Linked DNA regions of Homo sapiens. The protein of the gene in region 3 interacts with the protein of the main gene of each other region in a biochemical or structural test. Each region holds a gene or a part of one and is shown on either strand. Other genes may lie near its edges.

The links. Proteins that work in one complex are often made in the same cells at the same time.
Region 1: the proteins of TMEM178A (region 3) and LDB3 interact in a test that uses a peptide from one of them, tested with the Homo sapiens proteins (one large-scale study listed by IntAct).
Region 2: the proteins of TMEM178A (region 3) and SIPA1L2 interact in a test that uses a peptide from one of them, tested with the Homo sapiens proteins (one large-scale study listed by IntAct).
Region 4: the proteins of TMEM178A (region 3) and PTPN3 interact in a test that uses a peptide from one of them, tested with the Homo sapiens proteins (one large-scale study listed by IntAct).

Annotation. Positions count from the first base shown.
Region 1 is NC_000010.11:86,713,511-86,717,764, forward strand, and holds part of LDB3 (LIM domain-binding protein 3), read left to right. Parts: intron 1-2,816; coding exon 2,817-3,261; intron 3,262-4,254. UniProt on the Homo sapiens protein: May function as an adapter in striated muscle to couple protein kinase C-mediated signaling via its LIM domains to the cytoskeleton.
Region 2 is NC_000001.11:232,399,546-232,403,133, forward strand, and holds part of SIPA1L2 (signal-induced proliferation-associated 1-like protein 2), read right to left. Parts: intron 2,929-3,588; coding exon 2,847-2,928; intron 1-2,846.
Region 3 is NC_000002.12:39,702,774-39,708,183, reverse strand, and holds part of TMEM178A (transmembrane protein 178A isoform 1 precursor), read right to left. Parts: intron 4,104-5,410; coding exon 3,990-4,103; intron 1,136-3,989; coding exon 998-1,135; intron 1-997. UniProt on the Homo sapiens protein: Acts as a negative regulator of osteoclast differentiation in basal and inflammatory conditions by regulating TNFSF11-induced Ca (2+) fluxes, thereby controlling the induction of NFATC1.
Region 4 is NC_000009.12:109,407,054-109,411,307, forward strand, and holds part of PTPN3 (tyrosine-protein phosphatase non-receptor type 3), read right to left. Parts: intron 3,363-4,254; coding exon 3,176-3,362; intron 3,024-3,175; coding exon 2,946-3,023; intron 1,325-2,945; coding exon 1,268-1,324; intron 1-1,267.

The DNA.
Region 1 (4,254 bases), on a different chromosome or scaffold from region 3:
CTGGGATTACAGGCGTGAGCCACCGCGCCCAGCCAATCTTAATCTTTTTTAGCAGAGAATTGCACTTCACAAAGAAAGGAAAGAAAATGTTGCACAGAACCCCCTTATATATAACAGAGGGATGAAGCTGCTCTGAAGTTGTGCTAGATCACCTCTCCCTGCTCTCTGTCCCTGGTGGTGTTCCTGGAATCACTTCTTCCCCCAGCATTTTGATATTCTCTGCAAAGTTGTTAGGGAGGGTGACAATACCTCAAATTTGGGCTGTACACATTTACAAAATCCATTCACTATGTCACCCCAGCAGGTCCCCAGCATGCCCTGTGGGGCAGGCAGGGTGTCAGGCATTCCACCACCACTGAATAGACCTCAGTCTCAGGTTATCTGACTTCAGGATGTTCCATTTCCCTTCCCTCCTCTCCCCCAACCCTAGGCGCTACCAGTCTAACTGGGCTGGGCTTCCCTAGGTGAGCAGCAGGCCATGAGACAGGCTGACAGTACATCTGACCCTGACACCCAGGTTGCCCCCATCCTTGCCATCCTCACTCACATTTAGTGACACACTATGCCAGGTACTAGGCTACGCTCTTTATATTTCTTACCTTCCCTTAATCCTCATAATAACCTTGTGAGATACTAAGAATCAGTATTGCCAGTTTTAGATGAAGAAATTGAGGCCCAGAGAGGTTAAGGAACTTGCCCAAGGACACAAAACCAGGAGGTAGTAGAGCTGGATCCTGCAGCCAGGGCTCTTGGCTATGCTATCAAGACTCCACAGCAGGGGGTCTCCTTCATGTTGAAAATGACTCCTCCCTGACATGTTGCACTGAGATTTTCTAGAAATTGGACTCATATTCTTTACAGAGGCAGCTTGGGATGATAGAATGAATGGATTTGGAGATGTATTCCCACTTACTAGCTCTGTCTGAGCCTCAGTGACCTCAAGTGTAAAGAGGGAATAATGTGAAGACCGATTCAGATGACAGATGCTATGTGCCTCGTTACCCCTAAAGGGGAGGAAGATTCCTTATGGAGAAGGTATTATCTTTTTTTTTTTTTTTTTTTTGAGATGGAGTCTTGCTCTGTTGCCCAGGCTGGAGTGCAGTGGTACGATCTCGGGTCACTGCAAGCTCCGCCTCCTGGGTTCACGCCATTCTCCTGCCTCAGCCTCCTGAGTAGCTGGGACTACAGGCACCCGCCACCACACCCAGCTAATTTTTTGTATTTTTTTAGTAGAGATGGGGTTTCACCACATTAGCCAGGATGGTCTCGATCTCCTGACCTCATGATCTGCCCACCTCAGCCTCCCAAAGTGCTGGGATTACAGGCGTGAGCCACCATGCCCAACCGGTATTATCTTTTGAAGGCCTCACTGGCAGGATGGCTCCAGGGCAGGGCTGTGGAGGGTTTTATCTCTTCTTCCTTCAACAACATGGATGGATCCTATCTACCTGGTCCCTACTCACCCCCAGCACAGGGATTTCCAGCTCACCCAGCTCTGAAGGGTGGGTCACCTGGGAGTGGAAGGTGCAGAGTGGGAGCCACAGGCTGCCCCAGGCGGTCCAGGGGAACCAGGTGGGAAAGAGAGACTGGAGATGGGGCCAGGGTCTTAGGCCCTAAGGAAAACCTTCCTCTCCAGGTTGAGGCTGGAGTATGGGGTGGGGGGCAGAGGCGGGGTGTGGGTGCAGGGACTGCCTCAATGCAGTCCATCCTGCCCATACTGAGCTCAGGAATGGGGAGGGAGGCTGTGCTGACATGCTTCCTAGGGTTGGGGGAATGAGGCCTCTTTGCTGAGGAGCAGACTGAAATGTGGTGAGGCTTCTGGAACCTCACTCACTGGAAGAGGAAGCCAGCTGGACCTTGCCTGCAGGGTGCAGCTGGGTCTGCCCTGGCTAGGTGTTGAGGGCCCAGGCGGGAGAGGGCTGTGGGTAAGCAGTGGCAATGCTTTTTCTGTGCTGTGAGCCCAAAACGTTTTTCTGCTCTCAGGGAGCTGGAGGAGGGGGTGATAGAAGTGAGGTGGTGCATTCTCTTCCCTGTGCTCTGACTGCCTGGGCAATCTTTAGACAGTCACTCAGACACACTCTCAGCTTCCACCAAAGCGATGTGGGAGTACAGGGGTCCCCCAAGGCAGCCACGGGCCAAGTGAGCAGCTACTTCTAGGCTGTGTCACCCTAGAGTCTCTGCCCAGCACCCTCTGAATGACTCCTTCAAGATCCCCCACCCTAATCAAACCAAGACGGAATTGCCCCCCAATACAAATCAAGCCAAGCTGTTTTTCAAGAAAGTAATTGTAGCTAAACCTGAAACCTGAACCTGAAAACCCAGCTACCAGGTCACCTGTTTTGTCCTGAGGGCTGACCTAGGTCCAGGTTCAGCAAACTTATGCCAAGGGAGGTATTTCAGATGTCAAATCACTGGTCAGAGTGCAACTGAAAGCATCTTGCAGTCAAAGGCGAGGTGACCCACTCCCACCTCTCCCCGCCCAGGTACCCCCACCCCCACTCTGCGTCTTATGCAGGCCTTGGGCAGTCAAGGCCTGGCGGAGCCCCACCCTGCACAGCTGCAAATATTTATAGCCATGTCCCTTTTCCAGCCCTGTCGAGGGTTCTGCTGTGCTTGCTCCCTAGCTCTGTGAACACCCTGCTGAGAATTCAAATCTGGGCCATCAAGAAGTTCAGGAACAAGTCTCCCAAAAAAACTGAAATTGTACTGCTCTAATGTTAAAGTCACCTTTTGCATTTCTCTGGCTAGGAGTGAGGGGAACTGGGAAGAATGAATTCCTGACACACCTTTCTTTGGGTTTTTTTTGGCTTTTGCAGTGCCTGCATCTACCTACAGCCCGTCCCCAGGGGCCAATTACAGTCCCACTCCCTACACCCCCTCCCCTGCCCCTGCCTACACCCCCTCCCCTGCCCCTGCCTACACCCCCTCACCTGTCCCCACCTACACTCCATCCCCAGCACCAGCCTATACCCCCTCACCTGCCCCCAACTATAACCCTGCACCCTCGGTGGCCTACAGCGGGGGCCCTGCGGAGCCTGCCAGCCGTCCACCCTGGGTGACAGATGATAGCTTCTCCCAGAAGTTTGCCCCGGGCAAGAGCACCACCTCCATCAGCAAGCAGACCCTGCCCCGGGGAGGCCCAGCCTACACCCCAGCGGGTCCTCAGGTGCCACCACTTGCCAGGGGGACCGTCCAGAGGGCTGAGCGATTCCCAGCCAGCAGCCGGACTCCACTCTGCGGTCACTGCAACAATGTCATCCGGTATGGTCCAGCTGTGCCCCTGCACTGGGGCACTGGAAGGGCGTGTGTGTGGGGTGCTTGCCCACAGTCTGAGCCCTGGTTGGGAGAGATGGGGGTAGGAGGCAGGTGTAGGGAGAAAGCCTCGGGTCCTTCTGGCTTGCCATCTGGTCTTACCTCTCTGAGCCTTAGCTGCCATACCTGTGTGACACCCACTCTCCCAGGGAGCTGGGAGGAATGGCATGAGGTATGTGGGTGAAGCTCCAGCAGGATGCCTGGTGCCAGGAACTCCCCCTTGGGCTAAGGTTGAGGTCTGGGAATCACCAGGCTTGTCAGTAGGTTTACAGGGCATTTTGTTAGACAGTGTTGGTTTTGACCCAGTTTTCCTTTAGGGTTGTTTCTGGGTCTTTCCACAGACAGGCCTGGGCTGCTCAGGGGGTTGGTGGGCATCTGCCAGACTAAAATGAAAACAAGTGATTTCATACTTAGAAGCCATGGACCATGGGTGCTGTTGTTTGAATACAGTATGTTTGTGTGCATGTGTGGTGTGAGCTTATATACGTGAAAAATACACTTTTATTTAAAACTAAAGTAATACATACTCATTAGTGAAGAATTGGAAAACACAGAAAAGTAAAAATTAGAATATAAAAAAATGTCTTCATAGTCCCACTGTTCTGACTGCTAACCTGGAACTAGACAATACAAGTTTGTATCCTGGTCTACCACTTACTAGCCCTATGGCCTTAAACAAGTTGTTCAAACTCTGTGTGCCTCAATTCCCCTATCTAAAAATGGGTATTATAATAGTACCTAGTGCGTAGGATTGTTGTGAGAATTAAGCAAGTTAATAAATGCAAAAGTCTTCTTGAATAGAGCCTGACACAGAGTAATCACTTAATAAATGTTAGCCATCAGCATCATCATTATTGCATTTCTTACTATCATTATCAGTGGTCAACTGAATTCTATAATATGTTTACCCAGTCCCCTATTGGTAGATGTTTGAGTTGCTTC
Region 2 (3,588 bases), on a different chromosome or scaffold from region 3:
AGTTTATATTACCCTCTATCCAAAAAAGGGAGACTACAGGGAGGTTAAAGGTAATACCCTTTTGACAAATGCACAAAACTTTCTAAGTAGAAAATTGGAATTAGCAGAGCTGTTACATATGTTTATAATAAAATATGTACTTAGGTCTTTCATTCCATCAAGCTTTCCTGCTATACTATATTTCCATAATGACCCTTAAAATCTGCTATTAAAAACTGTGTAAAAATAATCAAGACTTTCAGAAGAATCACATCTGGAGTTTCCAACATGTAGCAATAAAAAAATGTATAGCAGCAGTTTCAGTTCCCCCCCTGCTGAAAGGGATGCCTTGCCCTAAATGAATAGAGGGGTCACTGTCAGATTGTAATAATCGGTATTTCTGTAACGGGATCTAACTCAACCACTACAGCCACCACATGCCACCCCCAGCACTGTGCAGGAGCATTGAGTGAGGTGAGTGGACGCCCCCACCCTTGGCATATCTGGTCCTGCCCTCAAGGCTTCCTCGTTTCCTGAGCCCTTCCAAGGCCCTCCTCAATACCACCTGCCTGGTCACTGGCCCAAAAGACACTGGTCCTCAGAGGAGGCCTGAATCAGAGCTGACCACTCACTTTGCTGTAAGGAGCAACTGCAGCCCACCCTGGATAGACTCACTTCACTCTAAGAAGCAGCTGCAGCCCACCCTGGATACTGACTCTCCCCGGACATTCCTCACCACGACTCTCAGTCCCAAGACAGTCTGAGTCCCACAGCTCAGCACATCTCTGCTGCGACTCGGCTGCCCACCTCTCCACATCCCTGCAAACCTTTTATTGTGATCCATGAACTTGGATTCTGCCAAGAAGACCTTGTGCACGCTCAGTCTCTCCTGAAATTCCTTTCGTCTTCGTGCTCTAAGTGAATCCTGGCTCCCTCCCGAGGAGACCGTCCCCAGCAGCTCACTATGGGGGTCGGGCAGGCAGACAGTGCATCCTCTATTGTTCAGGCCAGATCTCCACTACTTCCTACAATTCCAGCTCCTCTAAAAAACGTGCCATTAGGTCATGAGACCTGCTACCCCTCCTGGCTGCAATTATCTACTGTATCCCCAGTTCCAACCATCATTACGGGAAGATTCTAGAACCTGGTTTGCTCTTTTCTCCCCATCCCACTCCTGTCATCTGTGTTGATGATTTCGAATCCACTGAGATATTCCATCTGACACTCTGGCCGTTCAGCCTCTCCATCGCTTTCTCTCAGTGATCTTCAAACCCCACCCTCCTCAACCCCCACTCCCATGACCACATCCTATACCATGCTATTGTCAATGACTGCACCTCTTCCTAAAAGTTTCAAGTTCCTACTTCTTGACCACCACCTCCAGTCTTTTAAAAATAATTTCTCCAGTATCCACTCCTCCAGTAATGATAGACTCCATCAATCTTATCAATCTTACTCTTATTTTCACTGTCCACCAACACCTCCAACCCAGCCATTCCCCAGCAGTGACATTATTTCTCTTCAACCAGCCTGGACTCCAGGTTCTTTGGTTTATTCATGCCCTGTACACGCCCCAGGGTCCTTGTCTCTCTCTCTCTCTCTCGTCTTGATTTCCCGTCTAAACTTTAATATTGGCTAAATTCAACTCTCCAACGGTTCTACACTTGCAGCTGGAGATAGGGTGACCAGCCATCCCAGCTTGCATGGGACTTTGCCGGTTCTAATATGGAAACTTCCACATCCTAGAAAACTTCTCCATCCCGGGCAAACTGGGACAGCTGGTCACCCAAGCTGGGGAAAAAACACACGACCAGGAAAACAGGTATCGCTTTAATTTATGCTCCAAATTCAAACGTGCTTTAGCTTTTTTTGGGCAAGTCTCCTAAACCCGGTTGGTTTACACGCTGTGGTGCACCCATATCCGCTATCCACAAAACTCTTATACTCCCACCACTCTTAGCTCATGACTAGAAAGAAAAGAAACAATCAGAGAAATTTGCCAACATCTCTGTCTGGACCCTGTGTATGTGAATGAACATGTGCATATATGAACACACACATGTGCACACATACTCTGCTCCACTCTGGTAACTATGTATGAGCTGTCCCTACTCCTATCCAAGGCCAGCTCCCTCCTTGTGACTAGATCAGAACTCCACCCACTTGCTCTTCACCCTCATCATAATTTCCCTCCCAACTGAATCCTTTCCTCAGCATTCTCACCAGCTACAATTTCTCCCTTCTTCATAAGCCAAACCAAACCAAACCATCACAACAAAAACCTTCCTGTGATGCCCTCCCGCTTGCTACCGCACCCCATTCCGTTTCCCTGGACAGCCAACTGGCTCTCCAGCACAGGGCTGATGGAACAGAGCTCAGCCAAGTATTTGTGGGATACAGAATTTAATTTCTTTTGAGGACAGACCATGTGCAGGTTGATGTGTACAGCAGAAGTTCTAAGGGCTGTGAAGCTGATTCAAGACAGAGGACAGGACTCATAGAGACCAGGCTTTCTGGCAGCAATGGACTCCTCTGAGGTCATCTCATACAGAGTTGGCGCAACTGATAACTCACTGAACTAAAAAATGCTGGCCCACCATGCTTCTACTACACACTGAAGATTTGCCACACCAAGGGCTCATCCTCATTTACTCATATCCATTGAGATCCCTGCATCCCACAAAATGAAATACATCAGCTGCAGGTCAGCAGATGGAGTGAGACCTCAGGAGCATCTGTTGGTATTTATCATTGGTTTTTGTGTAAGGCAGTTTTCTTTCCTGAGTCTTTTCAATTTATCTGTAGTAGTTATAAGGGGCTGATTTTATAAGAGAAACAGTTCTGATTATGCTCTTCCAATTGATTACCTTCCGAAGGTCGGTCTGGAGTTGTCGAAGAATTAATTCCAGCTGATTGACTTTCCCGGTCAGTGGTGATGGAGAACGCTCCCTAGCAAATAAGGATAGAATTAGAAAGATTCAAGAGAGTCAATCGAGCATTTTTGTTGGTCAAGTTTTCACTCGAAAAAATTATTTCATGTGCTTAGAGCCCAGCAAGCAGATATATTATATTATGTCAGAATGGGAAAGTGTCCATATTGCTGATCTAGTGGAAAGCCCATTCTGGGACTTTACTGATTTAAAAAGAGATGCAGAAACTCTATAGATATACGAGTTGGTAGGAAAACAAAAGATATATTATTTAAGTTGGTTTATCCAATGGAGACAAGGAAGACCCAAATGAAGTCCTGGGAACCAGTCAATTTCCCCAATTTGCCTTTCCCTATGATAACAATATTATGAAGCTCGTTACCAATGTGAACATGCAAGTTAATGAAGTTAATTCCAAGTTCTATATTCAGCTCACATAGAAGTTGGAATTAAGAATGGATGACAGAGGTAAAGAATACACATTTCACGGGGAATGAACATGTCATGAATATAGGGGAAAGAGTGGGGTGTTCCCAACATATTTCAGTGGAGGGCATGAGGCTGGATCAAGGACCAGGTTCTGGGAGGGGCCATGCCCTGGGCTGGTGAGCATGTGCAGCCTGGCAGGTGGAAGGCCAATCGGCGAGTTATCCCTGCATGGTGCTGTTGCAGTAATTCA
Region 3 (5,410 bases):
CTGCTTCTCACGAATTAGCTGCGAAATCGCCACCTCAGCAAGATCTTCCCTGAGTCCCTGTTTCACCCTGTTTCTTTTCTTCACAGCTTTTATCACTACCACAAATCATTGTTTATGTCTCTCCACAATAAAAATGAACAAGAATTTTGCCTGCCTTATTCATTGTGTGTCTTTAGCACTCACAGCAGTGCCTCGTACATAGTAAGTCCTCAAAAGATATCTGTGGACTAAAATGAATGAGTGTTGTGTATGTAAAAATGACACCATCACTAAAGCATGCTTTGAATTGACATCCAGCGGGGCATGGGTTGTGCTGATCTATCCCCCTCTGTCTTTGAGGGCACCTCATAAGCAATGGTCCATGTTTGCCAAGAGTCCAGGCCAGGGTTTGGGGCACAGTATGAAAGAAGGAACAGAAGGTGGGGTGTGGTGGCTCTTGCCTGTAATCCCAGCACTTTGGGAGGCTGAGGCAGGCAGATCACCTGAGGTCAGGAGTTCGAGACCAGCCTGGCCAACATGGTGAAACCCTACTAAAAATACAAAAATTAGCCAGGTGTGGTGGCACATGCCTGTAGTCCCAGCTACTCAGGAGGCTGAGGCAGGAGAATCACTTGAACCCAGGAGACAGAGGTTGCAGTGGGGCAAGATCGCACCACTACACTCCAGCCTGGGTGACAGAGTGAGACTCCATCTCAAAAAAACAAAAAAGAAAAAAGAAAGTACAGCAAAAAAACAGACTGGGCTCATATAGAGATTAAACCCAAGACACTTCCATCCAACCTACTAACAGGCCACAATGGGGATATAGAGGATGCATTTCTCACACTGTTGTTTTCCTTAAATTCTGTATTTTCCAGCAAAGCCAAAATGACCTTCTGGTTGCTTTTCTAACAGTGAAAACAAAATTAACAGGGAGATAACAAAGCGACACTAGCTAGCCGCATGCAGAGCAGCCTTCACCTTGGCTGGGACAGACGGCCTGAGGCATGCAGCCTACCTGTCATGAGGAACAGGAGTCCAGCCACGTGCTGGGTCAAGCTCTCCTCCCAGAAGAAACTGACTGTGGCCACAATGCAGCCGCAGAGAAGGACGGCTACGGCCATGCCGAGGAAGCCAGCAGTGATTCTTCTTAAATCTAATCTCAAAACAGACACAGACATTCACAATCAGAATTCAGGAAAGTCATTAAGAATTAGAGAATTAGGGCTTTGTATACATTGTGAAAATTAGTAAGTTACATGGACAGGCTTAGAGCCCACAGGACAAGGAGGCATAGGGAATACTCTTCCCAGGTATTCCATAAGAGGACTGATGGGGTGTAACCAATGGAGGGTCAGACTATACCGTCTCTGAGTCCGTGGAGAAGTCCACACTAAGTGGAGAATAGACTAGAGGACAAGCCCAGGATAGACCTGAGTAACAGATGTCAAATGACTTAAACAAAGAGTGAGGTGGGTCTGAGAAATATCTGTTAGCCTTAACAGAACAATAGAAATGTAGGTTAACCAAAAACCACCTGTACCCCAAAAACTATTGAAATTTTAAAAGGGGAAAAAAAAGAAATGTAGGTTACTACCCTGGTAGTGGCTGTACTTAATCTAGCTTTGGAGAAAGAGCCTAAAAAAGCTATTGTGAAATAGGGTTTTATCTGATCACCACAGATGCCAATTATTTACTTCTTCATTTACATCTACTCCTGCCTATTTTCAAAAACAATTTGAGAAAGCGAAGGCAATTGTGGTGAGTGGAACAGTGGTGTAAAGTGCACACAGGATACATGTGCTCATAAACACCCTTTCCTCTGAAACATCTGCTCAGAAATGCCTTCTCCCCTAAAGCATAGATCCCACAACCTGGGCATCCATTTACCCAGGTGAAGGAAGTACTAGTCCAATAGGATGAGTCTCCACTACATAATCTCCACTATACAGTGGCCCAACTGTCTAGTTTGGTCTATTGCAAAAACACAACTGTGATCACTGAGCCAGAAATCCAGCTCTTTCCCCACATGCCTGACAAAACCAAGAGGTAGGCTGACTACGTGTACCTGGACACAAGTTGCCTCCAACTGCTAAACCAGCACTCACCTTGCCTACCTTCCAGCTATTTTACTTTTTCTATTTTCTTCCTTCTTTTTTTAAAAAATGCTTTTGAATCTTTTCTATTTACCTTGCAGCTCCATCTCAAAGGATTTTTTTTAACAAAACTAACTTTAAAAATTGTTCGCTAAATTTCAATCACCCTTCTTAAAACAACACATCCCAAGCATACATCTGCTGCCCCCAAGGCCAGGTAACAGGTCTGGGCAAATGCACGTGGATCATCCACACCTGTGTACACATGGGGCCAAGACAAGGTGCAGATCACACTGTTCGAAGTGTGGGCTGCTCTGCTAAAGTGAAAGTGCCCATGCAGCCATCACTTTATTGTGTGTTTGTGTGGCTCCTGGGCAGCTTAGGGGCGGCTTCATGGAGGATGGATTACAGTAGCTTCCAGTCTTGCTCTTAGCACCTTAGCCACAGAGAGACCATCCCTTTTTTAAAGAGGGATTTCTCATTTCCCACTCAGAGCATCCAAATTAAAAGAGAGTATTTCTGCCTAGAAGAAGAAATGTGGACACCAATGAATAAGGGGCCAGGAGCAGTGATAATTTAAAGACGCTGAGTTTAATGTTAAGGGTATAAGTAGTTTTTGAGACAGCCACATCTGAGCAGGGGAAATGTAGTATGGTTCAGTCACCATTATCTTACAGCCTCCCAAATTTCCTATGGTTTGAGTGATAGTCTATTTTCTGTGACTCTGAAAAGGCACAAGGTTCAGATATAATCCACATGGGATTTGCATTAGTACCAGTCATGTTAAGCTTATATAGTAAATGTGCTACAGATCACCAAGTGTGACTTTCTTAGAAATAGACATGCATGAGACTGCTAAAAGCATCTTTCCATGAGAACTCCAAAAAGGATTAAAAGAAGAATCTTCAAATACTGCCTTGCTGGGCAATCACAAGGTACAAACTATTAAAGAGCTAAGGTTCTTTTTCAGGCTCCTATGATGATCTTTTCTCCCCTGACCTGAGCCAGTAACTACATGGCTCTCTGGAAAGATGATTAAGTCTTAAAGTTGCCTGCCATAATATGTATATTAGACCACTGCTCTGGCAATATCATAAGAGCTTCCATTTATGTGTTTGAGATTCAGAACAGAGCCTTTTAATCCGCAGAGAGATTTACTTACAGAATGAGAGACTCTGATTAGTTTTCTACAGTGGCTTTGGCCACCAAACAAGATCCTGAAGTCCTTGTTACTTATTTCATTGGAAAATGACAATGTCAACCTCTGATGGGGGCAAAGACCAAAAAAATTCACAGTAGTTTTTCGTTTCGGGGAGCTATCTATCATCAGGCAGCTTAAATCAACAGTTTTTAGGTAAATATCAGCCCTCTTTAGTTTCACACTGCATGATGCTTTCTAGAGTTTCACATTTTCCTGACAGTGAAAAAGAATAGTTCCTTTCATTGAGATGTAGACACCCTCTGAGAAAATTATGACATACACTCATAAAGGTATTTTAGCAGAAATACAAAGGTCGGAGATGAACACAGTAGCTAAAATAAATATTGTATATACAAAACAAAAATAAGAGCCCCTAAGGTATAATCTCCTTGGTTTACAAGACAAGGGGTACAGCAGGTCCTTACACCCAACAACTCGGCAAACAAAAGATTCAGTAGGCAGCTGTGTACAGATGCCACCAGGGCAGACTATCTCACAAGACCTTATACCAGGTTTCCACACATTTTATTTTTAAGCAAACTGTGTCCACAGCATAGGGAAATGATCCTCTGAGTCTCTGACCACATCTGATTGGGCCCAGAGGCTCACAGAGGATAAGAACAACATCCTTCTGTCCAGATGTGAGAGGGGTGGTGGGAATTTTGTTCAGAATGACACCATTTCCTCTCTGAACCTCTCCTGGAAATACTTACGAAGCAGGTGCCACTCATCTTGCTGTATGGTCTTGGTTAAATTAAAAGGAATGTTTCGCAAGCGGATGGGCTGAGAAAAGTGGTACTTGATGGCCGTGCATCGCTGCGCAATACCTTGAAGGAAATAAGAAACGCGATTTACGAGTCTGCTTATTTGTAACAGAATTCTGAGACCTGAGGCAGAATACCGTAACCTAACCTGGGTTGAATGGGAGATGGGATAAGAATCTCTTGATTCAGAGCAATAAAAACCTAAAACATAAAATAATGTTTAAAATCAGGTTTCATTTTTTAATGTATTAAATTGTATAAGGATCTATACTCCCCTAATTGTTTTCCCATACGGAGCTTGTTTTACCTAAACACAAAACTCCTTAAGGAGCAATGGCCTAAAAGTACACAGATGGTTGGGAAAATCAGCTTAGAATTTTAAATTAGCACAGATAAATCACACATCTGGATCTGATCCAGTCTCAAACTCTCAAGGGTAGCCTCATGAAGTTCATTAGGAAGTGTGTTATTTGGAAACCAGAAGACATTTTTCCATAAAGATAACCTTCCACATGGTTTAGGTGGTGATTATATCTCCAGACAAACCTCGAAAACCTATTTAACTCTAGTGCAGCTGATATCATTCCTTAATACAGTTATACTGACCTGAATTCTAGATCTCGAGAAAAAAGGGTAATACTAGAAGTAGGAACAAGAAAGAAAATAATTTTCCTCCCCTATCTGGTTGTATGGCCAGCCCTAGGCACAATATTTTGATATGGGCAGGTGTACACATTGATTCATCTAGTACACTCTCCACCTCCTCACACCAACCTCACACACCCATGTTTTACTGCATAAATTAACATGGGTCCATTATTCTCTTCTCCTAGAGGCTTCTGAATTTCATGAAAAGTATCTACTCTGTCTTAAAATTTAAAAAAACTTATAAAATGTTCTCCTCTCATTTTAAATAATCTTGGCCAGTTGTTTGGATAAATGCAATCTGATTAAACTAATTTTTTTAAAGGCATGAGCGAATGTTAGTCCTTTAACACTGCCAGCCATTTAAAAAAATCTTCATAGATGCAAATAAATCTCTAATTGGTGGAATCTGAGTGCATATAAAGGTGAAATTTTAAAAAGATTATATAGTGAAGGGAAGAGATTAATATTTGAGCATAATTTGCATCATGAGCCCCAGTCCCTCCTGTGAATGTACCTACAGGATCATCTTCCCTAAGGAGTTTCTCAGATATTAGTGTACATCAGAATCACCTAGGTGGCTCGTTAAAAATGTAAACTCCTGAACTCTACCCCAGATATACTGAATCAAAAGTTTTGAGATGGAGCCAGGAAGCTGAATTTTAACAAGCATCCCAAGTAATTCTGATGCAGGTAGTCTCTGAATCTCCCTTTGAGAAAAACTA
Region 4 (4,254 bases), on a different chromosome or scaffold from region 3:
AAGCAATGAATTGAACAGCACAGGAAAGAAAGCCTTCTGAATTTACAGAAACTGTAAACAGTAACAAAAGTTAAATGACAAGAGCTTAAGGACTACCTCAGAGTAAAATCCCAACGTGGTTCACTGTAAGGAGGCACAGTGACTCCTACTGCTTTAAAAAAGCAGATGATTAAAAGGTAACTATGGAGCCAGGTGAGGTGGGACACACCTGTGGTCTCAGCGACTTGGGAGGCAGAGGCAGGAGGATCGCTTGAGCCTAGTTTGAGGCTGCAGTGATCATACCACTGCATTCCAGCCTGGGTGACAGAGCAAGAGCGAGACCCTGTCTCTTAAAAAAGAAAAATAGGTTAACTATGGAAAGTGATGAACATGTTAATTTGTTTGACTGCAGTACTATATGTATAACAAGACATCATGTTGTACACCTTGAGTATGCACAATAAAAAAATTAAACGAAAAAATTACTTGATATTATTTTAAAAACAATAAAATAAATTTATTTTATTTTTGAGACAGAGTCTCACTCTGTCGCTCAGGCTGGAGTACAGCGGCGTGATCTCAGCTCACTGCAACCTCTGCCTCCTGGGTTCAAGGAATTCTCCTGCCTCAGCCTCCTGAGTAGCTGGGATCACACCTGTGTGCCACCACACCCAGATAATTTTTGTATTTTTTGTAGAGATGGGTTTCACCCTGTTGGCCAGGCAGGTTGGTCTCAAACTCCTGGCCTCAAGTGATTCACCCTCCTCGGCCTCCCAAAGTGCTGGGATTACAGGTGTGAGCCACTATGCCTGGCCTAAAAACAATAAAATAAATTTGAAAGAAAAACAAAGCAAATGCTCTTCTTAGGAGGCCTACACAGATGACAAAAGGGGCACTGGTGGAAAGATGGTGAGAAGAGGCACAGGGCCCACGTGCCCACTTAGAGTGAGCAGAACAGCAGACTGCCTAAGTTTCCTTCTCTTGAAAAGGACTTCTCAAAATTGAATGCACACTAACCACTCAAGGCTCTTGTTAAAAATGCAGATTCCGGTTCAGCAGGCCTAAGCTGAGGCCAGAGATGCTGCATTTCTAATGAGGTCCCAGGTAACATGGGTGCTATGGCTTCAAAGACCACACTGAGCCGCAAGGTTATAGAAAACATGGTGATGTATATCTAAGCACATTCTTTGCTCTGGCAAAAAAAGAAACAGGACTCAGAAACAGAAACCTGTTAGAATTAGGGGGAAACAAACAAACACGAGGAATAACATGGAATGTATTTACTTACAGGTGACTCTGGGTTTATCCTTGATACCACAAGAGGCATCTTTTGATCCACTCCTCCCTGTAAACATTTTAAAATAAAAACAAAACAAAGTTTTTTAAGTTAAACAAACAAACAAACAAAAAAACGAGTAGCTCACAGCATCAACAACATGGAGGTACCAATAAATGTGAGTCTTTGGTACAGGGAGGCTTCAAACTTCACTATGACTGATTCGAATCACACGTCATTTCAGAAATATGGAACAAATTCCTGACCCCTCTGGATCCAGCGGGCTGACCAGGACTCTGTTCAGAAGCCTCCCTCTGCCATCCCCACAGTCCATGAACTAACAGATACACTCAGAGAGAAGCTCCTCCTTAAAAACGCAGATGCCCCCAGAGAGGGACTCCACAGCATGTCTTCGAGTGCTGCTAGAACAAACCTGCACGTTGTGCACATGTACCCTAGAACTTATAATAATTAAAAAAAAAAAAAAAATATATATATATATATATATATGGGCTTTATATATATATATGGGCTTTAATATATATATATATGGGCTTTATATATATATATATAGGGGCTTTCAGCAGAGGCGAGCGAGGCCTGGGAAGGGGGCACACCCTGTGAGCGCATCTGGCCTGTGAGCGCTGGTCCTCAACACAGCTGCTGGGGCAGATGAGGCTGTGCATGATGGCAGCTGGGGGGTAGGCGACCACCTGCCCTCACTTTGTCCTAGAGTAGGGATGAGTAAACGTTTTCTGTAAAGGGCCAGAGAGGCTTTGTGGGAGTGAGGGCTCTGATTCAACTGCTCAACTCTGCAGTCATTAACCCACCAGTAAACAAATGGCTGTGGCTGTTACCAAAAAAACTAGTTACAGAAACAGATGGGATTTGGCCTGTGGGTTTAGTTTGCAGATCCTGCTTAAAGGTGCCTGGAGGAGAGTGGTGGCCCTGCAGGTTGAACTTGAATTGTTTTTCTCTTATCAGCTTTAGCAATGCTGAGGGGTTCTCTTAATAGCATTCCTGAAGTGGGTAGATCTGTTTGCCAACTGTGTGCCCTCATTTCTGGGAACCTCAGTATTCATTTGCAAAATGGGTTTAAAAATACTGACCTTACCACTTGTTATCAGAACTTAAGAAGGTGCTATGAATCTAGTGGATAGCCAATGCCAGGCACAGAGCAGGCACTTGGCCTTCGGCAGCTGTTAAGGCCACATTAAAAAAAACCTCTCAATTCTAGGCTGGGTGCGGTGGTTCACGCCTGTAATCCCGGCACTTTGGGAGGCCAAAGTGAGTAGATTGCCAGGTGTTTGAGACCAGCTTGGACAACATGGTGAAACCCCATCTCTACAAAAAATATGAAAAAAATTAGCTGGGTATGGTGGTGCATCCCTATAGTCCCAGCTGAGGTGGGAGGATCACCTGAGCCTGGGGAGGTCAGCGCTGCAGTGAGCTGCGATCGTGCCACTGCACTCTAGGTTTGGGCGATAAAGTGAGTTTTTAAAAAAAAACAAAAAAAACCCCAAATATCTCAAACCAAACAAAAACAAAAAAAACCCCCAACTCTCAATTCTGAGGGTTGAACCAACTTCCTTATGTAGCTCAGGAATGCAGCACATTTGTAATGCAAATTAAAAACTCATTGAAAGATTGCTTCCCAGCACAAAACTTCCTTTATAAATACACAACATACCTTAAGATTAAATCCAAATTTTCCATCTTCATCTGGTGTGATACGGATCAAGACTAAGTAGCTGTCACCATTATCATTCTGGAAAACGGTTTGAAAGTGGTCATTTGCATCACATCTCTCTCCAGCAGTTGGTGATAAGATATTTTCATTTAGTTAGAGCTACTCAGCTGCCCACAAGAGGCCGGGAAGCCCTGGGTGTGTGGATCACCCGGCTGCCTGCGCTCGCTCACCTTGTCACAGTAGTACTGGCTGGCGTCCTCGGTGGAGCCCCCTTTGGTCACCCTGTGGAAGTCATCTAAGAGCTGCTGATCAACGCCGTCAGGTGAGCAGGAGCCTGGAGCATTTGAAGATGGAGACACAGAACTGGATGACTTCTGGGTCAGGTAGCTTTGTGCCGGATTGTTCTCGGATAAACTCCTTCATCATGGGGAAGGAGGAGATATTAATAACTGGGTTAATATTTTATTAGAGCAAACACTACTGACTGTAGGGGCCTGGCAGCTGGGGGCTGTATGTTTCCCTGGAACCTCAGCTGCATAGGTTGTCAGCGGGATTTGAGTACACCCAGGGCCCACTGACCACCCCTGACCGCATCTGGCCTAGACACTGTCACATGGTTTTGGGGAAAAGGGATAGGAGGCAGGGTGGATCTGGAAACTGCTGAAAACTTTGCTCCCTTCCCCGCTGCTTTAGAAGGGTGACAGGGAAATGTGTCCAGCTCCTCTGGTGGTTTCATTACTGAACCAGGCTCTGCCAGGCAAGCTCATGCAGATGCACAGCCCATCCCTTCTGAAAGCTTTTTTCCTTCTGTCTCACTTCTGCGGATGGTTCTGCTTCATAGGACTCTTGCCTCCTCAAAGGAAACAGGACTGTTGTTGTTGTGCGTTCAGGAGAATTTATATTATTCCTAGTTGGCATGATTTGCCTGTGACATCCATGAACTGCCACGCTGAGATCTTGTTACATTTTCCTCTATCGAATATAGTTTCTTCTGTATCGTGGAGCTGCACTGTCTAGTATGGTAGCCACTAGTTATATGTGGCTACTTAAATTTAAATAAATTAAGACAAGAAACCAGCCATACTTCACATGCTCACTAGCCATATGCGGCCAGTGGCTCCCGTATGAGACAGTGCAGTCAGAGAACATTTCACCACGGCAGGAAGTCCTGCTGGACAGCGCTGTCTTAGAGAGTTACAGATGATGAAAACGGAACAGAACTTTGTGGTCATTTGTTCTAACTCCCAGTTCACAGATGAAGAAGCTGAGGTCAGGAGAGGCTGAGTAACTTGCCCAGGGTCACATGGCT